Homo sapiens: one gene and its partners. The protein of the gene in region 3 purifies or fractionates together with the protein of the main gene of each other region. This does not show direct contact. Each region holds a gene or a part of one and is shown on either strand. Other genes may lie near its edges.

Region 1 (3,653 bases), on a different chromosome or scaffold from region 3:
TGCAGGCCTCCGCCTCTGAGATCAATGCGTTAGTACTTCTTCACCGTGAAACCCGAAAGGTCGGTTGATGTAGCCCTTGGAGCTGGAAGGGGCGAGGCCGGTCTATCTGTACACGAGATGGGAGAGCTGGGTGGACTTGTAGTTCAGCTGGTTGTTGGGCATGAACTTGTGCAGCTCACTCTTTTTGTAGCAGGGGTCATAATGGTAAGCGCTGAGGCAGGCGTCACATGAGACTTTTGAACACTGGGTGCAGGTGTTGGTGGCGCCTGGGCGGTTGCAGAAGCCACAGCGGGAAGTGGGCGTGGTGGAGGGCTTGGATTTGGAGTGAAGGTGCGGGAGGCGGTCGAGGCCCTGAGTCTGGCCTGGGTACTTCTCCCGCAGAGATGCCCCGTGGGCCAGGCTGTCATGAGTCGAGGCCTTGCTGGGGAAGGCGCTGGGCTTGGAAGCTGGAGGACAGGTGAGCAGGCTGTCACAGCGCTGGCAGAGGGAGGAGCTGCAGGACAGCCCGCAGCTTTGGCACTTGGAGAGGGCGGACTCTTTGGCAGGGGGCGAGCGCTTGTGGTAGAGGGAGTGGGCATCGTTTCTGAGCAGCCACACATCCGGCCGCAGAGCATCCTGCCGACGGTAGGTGGCCCTGGGTTCAGAGTCTGTGTACAGATCCACGTCATCCTGAGTGGAGAAGTAGGTACCGCGCAGCAGGGCCGGGCCGTTGCTGGGGGAGGCGGGTGGAAGCACATCCGGGCTGCCGTGGGGGGAGCTGGCCATGGTCAGCAGCGAAGGGGATGGGCGGATGATCTCATCCTTGAGGTCGTCCCCCACATCCGTTGCCACAGGCTCCTTCCGAAGACTCAATGAGGCCTTCAGGGGTGGCTTCCGGCTCTCCCAGTAGCTGTCATAGGCATCCACTGACCTCGAGGGCTTGGTCACGCGGGGCTTGTAGTAGTCCTTGGCCGCCCGCTCGCTGGCCGACTTCTGGAGTGCCACTCGTGACATGGAGGCCGTCAGGTGCTCCCGGCCCTCTGCCCGCCGCCGCAGGGCGTCCGAGCAGCCGCGCACATCCTCTGCACTGCTCTTGCGCTCGCTCACAATGTCCAGCTCGGAGTAGCCCTTGTCCTTCACTTGTGAGTGGATTTCTAGCATCTGCTCACACTCGACTTTGGCCAGAAAGAGCTCAAAGGAGACCATCTTCACCTGGAGGGTCTCCACGAGCTCTCTGAGCTTGTATGCAGTGCCCAGCTCAGGTGTGTAGCCCATGCAGCTCAGGATGGCTCGGATGTCCTCTTCCAGTAATGTCGACTTGACATAATAAACAAAAGGGCCCGTGTAGGTCTAGAAGGGAGGGAGTAGAAAAGAAAGGTGGGGTTTTCTGTCAGAGACACAAGACAGAGACTATGTCAAAGCAAAGGATGTCCAGCTCTGAAGTGGGGCGGCGGGGAGAGGGCAGGGCAGGGAAGGATCTCGACAGCCTCACCCTGCGGGAGGCAGAAGACGCAGGAGCTGGGGCTTGCTAAGCACTCAGGAATTGTGCAAGGAAATGACCCAGCAGCTCCTTTCTTTTGTTTGAGACGGAGTCTCGCTCTTTTGCCCAGGGTGGAGTGCGGTGGTGCGATCTTGGCTCACTGCAACCTCCGCCTCCTGGGTTCAAGCGATTCTCCTGCCTCAGCCTCCTGAATAGCTGGGATTACAGGCGCCCGCCAACACGCCCAGCTAATTTTTCTGTTTTTAGTAGAGATGGGGTTTCACCGTGCTGGTCAAGCTGGTCTCAAACTCCTGACCTCGTGATCCACCCGCCTCGGCCTCCCAATGTGCTGGGATTACAGGTGTGAGCCACCGCGCCTGGCAGCAGCTACTTTGTTAAACACAGGAAGCAAAACCTCTCGCTTCCTAGTGGGGCACGAAGACTCTACTCCATATGAAGAGAGAGCCTGGGCAAACATGGCTGAATAAAGGGGCCAGATTACAGGCAGAACGCGGTGACAATCAGAACGTTCCTCTCTGGTATTTCCATGAGGGGCTGAGTAACACGGCAGACTGAAGGGCCTGGCTAGGTGACAGCTCTCCTGTGCCATCCCCTCTCTTGATTACCACTCCTCCCATGGCAGAATGAAGAAGCCTGGCTAGGTGACAGCTCTCCTGTGCCATCCCCCGCGTGGTCTGATTCAGGATCCCTCTCTCAATTCCCCCTCCTCCTCTACTGTTCCCACTTAGTACAGAACACCCCTCAGCTTGCTGGGACCGCTGAGAAGCTTCCTAACTGCTCTCCCCATCCCTCCCACCTCCCCCCACCCCTCTACAGCCTACTTCCCATACCACAGCCAGAATGACCCTCTTCAGATGCAAGCCAGATCCCACACTGCCTCCTTCCCCGCCTACTCAGAACAAATCCAAGCCTTGCCCTGGGCCACAAGACCCTGCATAACCTGGCTGCCCCTGCCTTCCCAGCTTCTCTGCTTAAGGTGTGGCAGCCGGGCCAGAAACGGTTCAGAGGTGATGCTGGAGAGACGGGGAAGGTTCGGAGCCCGGAAGGATCTGAGAGCACAGGATGGATGGGATCAGACTGGCATAGCCTCTCAGGAGGGACTGCCAGGGGCAGGAAGAGAGAAGGAGGGCCTGTATGGAGGCTGCTCCAGGACCTCACCTTGATGCTTCTGAATTCCTTCTTCCACGGGTAGAGGAAGAGGTTGATGCCCACCGTCTCCAGCATGCTGAAGGCGCCGTGCAGAGCCCGCAGGCTAGAGGAGCTGAGCGAGCGCAAGGAGCTCTCCACCACCTCATAGAACTGGATCAGCCGGAATCGATAAAAGGGATCCACCTTGTGCAGGCTGAGCAGGGTTGAGGCTGCCACCCGCAGGCACTCATCGCTGCCAGGCCGCTGCCTGCTGGTGGTGGTATCCACTTTGCTCTCATGGAACTGCACGTACTTCCGAAATAAGTCATCCTTGAATTTAGTATCCATTGAACTGGGCTTCCCCATCCGATCGAGGGGGGCTACCTTATCTCCTCCATGGCTTCTGGATTAGAGGCAGGGACATCACTAAAAGCATGGACATGTTGCCGCCTGGACCAGCGGAGTGCTCTGGAAGGAGGGGAACAAGAAGCATGTCATTCCTCGATACGGTCGCGCTTCGGCTTCAGGTCGCTGAGGCAAAATGAACAGCAGAACTGGCCTGGGCTACACTGGACCCCAGCAGCACACTACAGAGCATGTACTACAAGCAGGGTTACAACAGAGGCCAGAGAGAGATGGACCTTGACTTTGTTGTGCTCACAAATGAAAAATACGATTAATATTCCTGAAAGAGAAATTCGGGTGAGTACAGCAGGAGCTCCTGTCCTGGTTTCGTTGGGGAAGGGCGAGTTTAGGAAAGCCCTCTTGAGACAGCAACAGACCTGAAGGATGAGGAGTCTGCCAGGCCAAGAGGCCGGGGAAGGAGTCGCAGTAGAGGAAGGCCCTGAGCTAATAGTACCAGAGGCTCCAGACACGTGACGAGCTTCACACACACTAACTCGCTTACTTTTTTTTTGAGATGGATCCTTGCTCTGTAGCCCAGGCTGGAGTGCAGTGGCGTGATCTCAGCTCACTGCAACCTCCGCCTCCCGGGTTCAAGCGATTCTCCTGCCTCAGCCTCCCAAGTAGCTGGGATTACAGGCAC
Region 2 (3,653 bases), on a different chromosome or scaffold from region 3:
ACCTTCATTATGACAGATACAGTTATCTACAGAAGAGTTTCCACCCATTCTCTTTTAAGGAATAAACATTATAGCCTGAAAAACATCTATTAAAAAAACCTAACAATGTATTACATTTTTTACGTGTGTCAAACCCTAAAGTACAATGTTATTCCTTAATGAAAACATATGAGGATGCTTAAATGTCATAAGGTTTGGGATATGTAATGTAGTATTTCTTTTGAAATTGTTTTTGATTTATTTCATCTTATTCAGGACCTTAAAATGTCAAAAATACAAACATTTGCTACAATAAACTGATTTCATAGGAAAGGCTAGGCCTACAAACTGGTTCTAAAGACTTGACTTCTGATATAATTCCAGTGTCATAAATAGAAGAAGACTAAAGCAATCACCGTTTTTCCTCATTTAATATTCTACTTGATAAGTTACTACAGTTAAGTACCTCAACTAAAACAATTTTCTACTACAAGACAATTCTTTTAGTTGGAAAGACTCCTCTTGAAAATTCCTTTCCTAACTTTCCAATGAAGAATTGCCTCATTAGAAAGAAAAAGGTTGTTTCTCTTTCTCATTATTGAAGTTTATTTCTATTAGTTAAATTCTACTAACCTCATCCCATTAACTAACTAGTGAGGCTTATAGCTTTCTTCAATCACCATTTTTTGGGGGTTTGATAAATCATTTGTATTCTAGGGTAAATTTGATGGGTTGATATTTTATAGTAATTTTAGCATATATTTTATTTAAAAAGCATAGTTTTCATCACCAAGATTTCTAAAGTTTATCACCAGAAATATGACATATTAGCATCACGAACCCCCTGATATGATGTACAGAGAATGACACAAGATTGTGTCTGTAGTATTCTTGCAATAAATGCGTAACTTCAGTCAAACAATGAGAAAATATCATATAAACCCAAACTGAGGGACAATCTGTAAAATAACTGAAACTCTTCAAACATGTGAAGAAAATGAAGGAAACAGGAAATAACAGTTAAATGCAAGGTGGGATCTTAGGTAGGTTCCTAGAACAGAAAGGGAACATTGGTGAAAACTGAGGGTTAGTTAGTAGTATTGTATCAATGCTACTGCCCTGGATTTGATCATTGTATTATGGTTACACAAGATGTTAACATTAAGGGAAGCTGTGTGAAGTGTATACGGGCACTCTGTACAGTTTTTGTGATTTTTCTATAAGTCTAAAATTAGTTTAAAATGAAAAGTTAAAAATATTCCTAAAGTTTACTAAGTGAGAAAATATCATCAAAACATGAAAGGATAGAATCAAGCAACAAGCTAAGCTATTAACTTAACAATCCATTTCTATCCTGAAAAGGAAAGCTCTTTTCTTATTCTTCCTTTGTGAAATGATTTTTCAGATTCATGTCTTCTGAAAAAAGCATGCATGGATTCACCTGCTCTAACTGAATTATAGATTTTTCTTTAAACCACCTACCAGTTTTTCCCCTATAGAGATGCGTTTTATTTAAATGGAAACTTCAATCTGACGATTGACATCTTAGTGAACTAATTTAAACACTTGTTACATGTCAATAGCAAACACCTTTAAAAATTAACTGGAAGAAACAACAATTATTTACTCCTAAAATCCATTTGTCAAAATCACACAATTATAAAGTAAAATGGATTACCACATATTTATAGCAGGAGAAATAATTTTAAAATGAGGGTGTTTTTCTATTATATTTATGTGGGTTTTATTTTATAGTCACTAGACAGTAAAATCCATCAAGCATTTTATAACTGCTTACATCACAAGTATTCAGTAATTATCTGGGTAACCTCGGACCCAACACTCAAGCACTTTGGTTCTCAGTTCTTTATATGTCAAATAAATAGATCAGTCAAGATCTGTATTATCCAAATATTAGCATGTGGCTATTTAAATGTAATACTTCAAAATTAAAGTAAAAAATTCAGCTTTGAATTTGAGACACATTTCATGCACTCAACAGCCACACATGACTGGTGGCTACTACCCTGGACAGCAAAGATAACAGAACATTTCATCATGACAAAAAGTTCTACTGAACAGTACTGTTCAAGAGGATCTTGACATTCTGCCTTTTCTTTCTTTCTTTCTTTCTTTGAGATGGAGTTTCGCTCTTGTTGCCCAGGCTGGAGTGCAATGGCACAATCTCAGCTCATGCAACCTCCGCCTTCCAGGTTCAAGCGATTCTCCTGCCTCAGCCTCCCAAGTAGCTGGGAGGTGCCCACCACCACGCCCAGCTATTTTTTTTTTTTTTTAATATTTTTAGTAGAGATAGGGTTTCACCATGTTGGCCAGGCTGGTCGCTAACTCCTGACCTCAGGTGATCCACCCGCCTCGGCCTTCCAAAGTGCTGGGATTACAGGCATGAGCCATCGTGCCCGGTCCTGATTGCCTCTTCGATTCTGTGCGTGAGGCTGAACTGTGTCCCTCCAAAACTCATATATTGAAGTTCTAACTCCCAGGATCTCACAGTATGACTGTATTTGGAGACAGAGTCTTTAAAGAGGTAATTAAGGTTTAATGTGGTCATTAGGGTGGGCCATAATCCAGTATAAATGGTGTCCTTACAAGAGGAGGGGATTAGGACACAGACACACGAACATAAAAAGAGACGACAGCCATCTACAAGACGAGGAGAGAGGCCTCGGAAGAAATGACCCTGCAGACGCCTTGATCTCAGACTTCTAGCCTCCAGAACTATGAGAAAATAGATTTCTATAGTTTAAGCCATGCAGTCTACAGCATTTTTTAGGACAACTCAAGCAAACTAATAAACATAATTTTTTAAACCCACATTATGTAACCTATCAATTTGCCCCATCTTCCTGAATTGAAGTACATGGATTATATTTCCTGTTCTAATCAAGCTGGCTTTTCTGTGATGAGCTCTTCTTCTCAATCAGATTCTCATTTTTTTCTATGAATTTTTGTCCAATTTTTTCTATATTCAGAATCTATCAGATTGCATTTTTTCCTTTCATTGATTCAAGTTTTCTCCAACAAGTATTTTCCAGTTATTACACCCATCCTTTCACTTACCAGCAAAACCTGGTGCTTGCCAATCTGTGCAAGCTTAGTCAATGCACTAAATGAAAAGTAAAGGTATTCACTATGAAATAAGTGCAAGGCTAACCTCAGATCAAATCAATTAATGAGTAGTAAATTTTATAACACTAATTTTAATAAAACTTTCAACACTAATAAAAACCTCAAATATAAATATTTTAGCTCTCACATCAGGGATGGAATTTCACACTAGTTTTGGGTAGTAGAATCATATGGAGTTTCTTGACTCCCATTTTAAACTTATCAGGCATGCATATACGGTAACAGGGATTTCATCTATAAAACACTGTAGACCTGGAACATGGAGAATCTACAACAAACCTGTTTAAGAAAAGGTTGGTATTCCTGAACTAGTTGCCTTGTTTTGGCGTAATTTACAAGTTAATACCGATTGGCAGAAGTACTTTTTATATGAGTAGTCTAGGTAGTTATAACACCACATCAATTATTTTAAAACGCTTGACTGTTGAAATATATGTTTAGAGTAGGTTACTAGATTCTTCAAATTCATCCTAGCATTATCCAGTATTTTCATATTTGGTTGGTATTTAGACCCAAGGAAGCTCAAG
Region 3 (3,653 bases):
ATGAAAATGCAAGGCCCCATGTTAAATAATTATTAAGAATTTTTAGCAGGGCATGGTGGTATGCGCCTGTAATCCCAGCTACTACTCAGGAGGCTGAGGCAGGAAGATCACTTGAACCTGGGAGGCAGAGGTTGCAGTGAGCCGAGATCATGCCATTGCACTCCAGCCTGGGTGACAGAGTGAGACTCCGTCTCAAAAACAAAAAATAATTTCAAGATGCTGACAGTAGAGCATTAAACAAACACAGGGCTTATCTAAGTGGGGTAGGAATCAGGACTTGGAACGAACCTGAGGATCAGCTAAAAAGTTCCTGGATAGAAGCCTTTCCAGAAGACATGGCCACCAGTGTGCCACATCAGTTTACTATCGCCATGGCAACATACAGATCTTACCACCCCTTTCCATGGCAATGACCCTATGAACTGGAAATTACCACACTCATCCTAGAAATTTCTGCATAAACTGTCCCTTAATTTGCATATAATTAAAAGCGGGTATAACTATGAGTTTGCAAAACTGCCTCTAAGCTGCTATTCTGGGCAGAGTGCCTATGGGGTAGCCCCTTTCTGCAAGAAGCAGTCTCTCTGCTGCTTACTGTACAATGCCACTTCAATAAAAGTTGCTGTTTAACACCACCAGCTTGCCCTGGAATTCTTTTCTAGGCCAAGCCAAGAACCCTCCTGGGCTAAGCCCCAATTTGGGGGCTTGCATGTCCTACATCATAAGTGAGGGGCCCTTTTAAGAGTAGGGCCTTGTGTGACTGCACAGGTCATATTTTCATGAAGCTGGCCCTGATCTTGATAAACATTACTTGAATTAATAAATGCCTTCTATTGATAAATGATTTCTGTTTTCCTTTCACATTATCTGTCAATCATATAAACTTAATCAAGAGCTTTTAAACGGAGTAGTTCCTCAAAAAGATGGCACAGAGGCCACTGCCAGAAAATAAGAAACTAGGGTATCAAAACTGACTGAGACGACTTCAGGGCATTATTGTGCACTAATTGGAAAACAATGATTACCCTGCCTTTTCTTAAGCAAACACCATATATTTGTACTTACTATTTATTCAAATACATTATTCTTATTCTTTTAGATACAAGTATTGTGATAAAAATAGCTACCAAATAAACAGTTGTGAGTATTGTCAGAATTATTGTTAGGTATTTCACATCGTTAAATGGATTCAGGAGCTTTATCAGGAAAACCACTAGAAAATACAGTTCAGTGACGACCACCATATTAAGACTGAAGTCCCAATTTCCTTAACTTATGTTATGGATTAAAAATACCAAAATTTAAAATAATACATCTTTATAATCCATAGAAAGCCTAAAAATCAATAATCAGATAAGAAAACATTATGTGAATATCAAAATGGCTTATATGAAAAATAACTTATATAACTTACTTTACCTAATATATAAAATTGGACATGATTATAGCTAACCAGAAAGAGTTTACAAGGTTTAACGTTTATTGCTGAAGAATAATGTTGCAAATTAAAGGTGTCAAATCTGAAATGTCAGTCCAGCTCTTGATATTTAAAATGTGTAATTAACACCTCTACCTACAAAACAGGGTTGGATTAGCCCTGCCCTGAGGAGCTCTCATTCCATTCATGGTATAATCCATTATTTGGCATTAGTTATCGTAACAATTTATGTATTATTACAAGCACACTCAGACTCACAAAAATTGCAGCCCAGGCTTATGCATTCATTTAAAGCTTTAGAGAAAAAAATATTCATTTCAGCATCTCCCAATGTTGTATTGTTATTGTATCTATGCATATTGACAGACCTTTCATCATCATAAGAACTCCTTGTATCCAGGTTATAACCTCGGTCTCTGACCCCAATCCTACTATGCTCAACTCTGTCTAAGCTGTTTGTTCTAGCTTAGAAATAACTTCAAATATGCCATCTTACAAATAGGCATCTAACCACGTTAATGATGATTTTTACCTGAGACAAAAGTAAAGAAATATTTCCTAATATAGAAAAGAAAGGCTTCAGTGTTTTTGTTGTTGTTTTGTTGTCATCCGTTGCAAAGCTGCTTTCTACAAGACGCAGTAAAAATAGCAAGTTGTAAGGAGTCAGAAAAAATCCAGGCTTAAACTCCAGCTCTGCCACTACCCAACCGATTAGGCTTGGACAAGTTAACTCATCATTCTAAGCCTGCTTCCCCTATCCATGCGCTGAGCTTGGGAAAAGGGTAGGTGAAAGGGCCTATGTGTCTAGAACCAAACTTCCTAACTGGCCTTTCCTCCTTCCTCCTACCCTTTCTAAAATGTCTGGAGCTGAACTTCCTAAATACACTTTTCTCTTTCTTTCTTCCTCGTCACTTTTGTCTTGCTGAGTGTTTGGATGGTGTCCAGTGGGCAGCATATTTAATACTCAGCTTTGGGCTGACATACCAGGCAGAGATGAATTCACTTTTCTAGGGCCAAGCTTTCAGCCACAGTAATTTGCTTACATATGGGGGGAATTGAGCAAGTAAGTACATACACTGAAGATAAAGGTAGCCAGATTTCCTGCTGTTGAACACACATATGCACACTTGTTTATACACAAAAATTTTCTAGGGTCTCTGCTGAGAGAGGCTAGTAATGAACACTTCTAGTGCTCAGAGTTTTTTCTAAATGCCACTTTCCACTAAAGAAACCAAAATTCGTGGCAGAGAAGGCTGATTCCAAGGCAGGTCAGGAAAATACAAGATAAGCATGGCACATTGTAGTGCCAGAAAATAAGGAAGTGATGAAAGAATGATGGAAACATGTCATAAAGGGGCTTCTATTGGCTAAGTCTAAGAAAATTTGAAATCAGAATTAAAAAATAATAGTAATAAATTGATTAAAATTTGAAGTCATGAGTCTATATTGATGTAAACGAATAAACAAGAAATATATGGTATAGCAAGGAAAACCCTACCTTACAGTAAAATGCCAACTAATAAATCTAGAAGGACTGATAACATTAGAAAATTGTCATTTGGCATCCATCACAGTGATAACAGATTCAAACAAGAAGCATCAATGGAGAAATCTGGCAGGAGAAAATATGATGAGAAACAGAATATTTACAGTCTCAAAGCTTCTCCCTACAAAACACAAAGATTCTCCCCACAAAACACACATTGCCTATTAATTTATGAATGTGACATATTTGCTAATTCACCTTGTAACAGAGAAACCTGGCAGACCCAATCTTAAAGAAACAGAAGTTAACATCATGAAACCACGGAATAAATTGAGATCATGTGATGCCTAAGAGGACTCACTGATTGAAGCACAGCATCTCCTCTAAGATATTCCTGTCAAGGGGTCACAAACATGAGGAAACATCAGACAGACCTATATTGAGGCACATTTAATCACGTAACCAGCCTGTATTCCTCAAAAATGTCAAAGTCATGAAAGATAAGGCTGGGTGCGGTGGCTCATGCCTGTAATCCCAGCACTATGGGAGACCAAGACCACCTAAGGCCAGGAGTTTGAAACCAGCCTGAGCAACCCAGCAAGATCTTGTCTCTCAAAAATAAAAATAAAAATAAAAATAAAAAAGGAAAGAAAAAGACAAGAAAAGACTGGCAACTATTCCAGATTGAAGAAGACTGAAGAGGCATGACAACTAAAATCAACGAGTAAT

What was found.
Region 1: the proteins of STXBP4 (region 3) and SPATA2 purify together in Homo sapiens (affinity purification with mass spectrometry; one large-scale study listed by BioGRID and IntAct). This does not show direct contact.
Region 2: the proteins of STXBP4 (region 3) and HOMER1 purify together in Homo sapiens (affinity purification with mass spectrometry; one large-scale study listed by BioGRID and IntAct). This does not show direct contact.

The regions. Positions count from the first base shown.
Region 1 is NC_000020.11:49,905,517-49,909,169, forward strand, and holds part of SPATA2 (spermatogenesis-associated protein 2), read right to left. Parts: intron 3,077-3,653; 5' UTR 2,975-3,076; coding exon 2,639-2,974; intron 1,330-2,638; coding exon 103-1,329; 3' UTR 1-102.
Region 2 is NC_000005.10:79,402,607-79,406,259, forward strand, and holds part of HOMER1 (homer protein homolog 1), read right to left. Parts: intron 1-3,653. UniProt on the Homo sapiens protein: Postsynaptic density scaffolding protein. Binds and cross-links cytoplasmic regions of GRM1, GRM5, ITPR1, DNM3, RYR1, RYR2, SHANK1 and SHANK3.
Region 3 is NC_000017.11:54,971,698-54,975,350, reverse strand, and holds part of STXBP4 (syntaxin-binding protein 4), read right to left. Parts: intron 1-3,653. UniProt on the Homo sapiens protein: Plays a role in the translocation of transport vesicles from the cytoplasm to the plasma membrane. Inhibits the translocation of SLC2A4 from intracellular vesicles to the plasma membrane by STX4A binding and preventing the interaction between STX4A and VAMP2.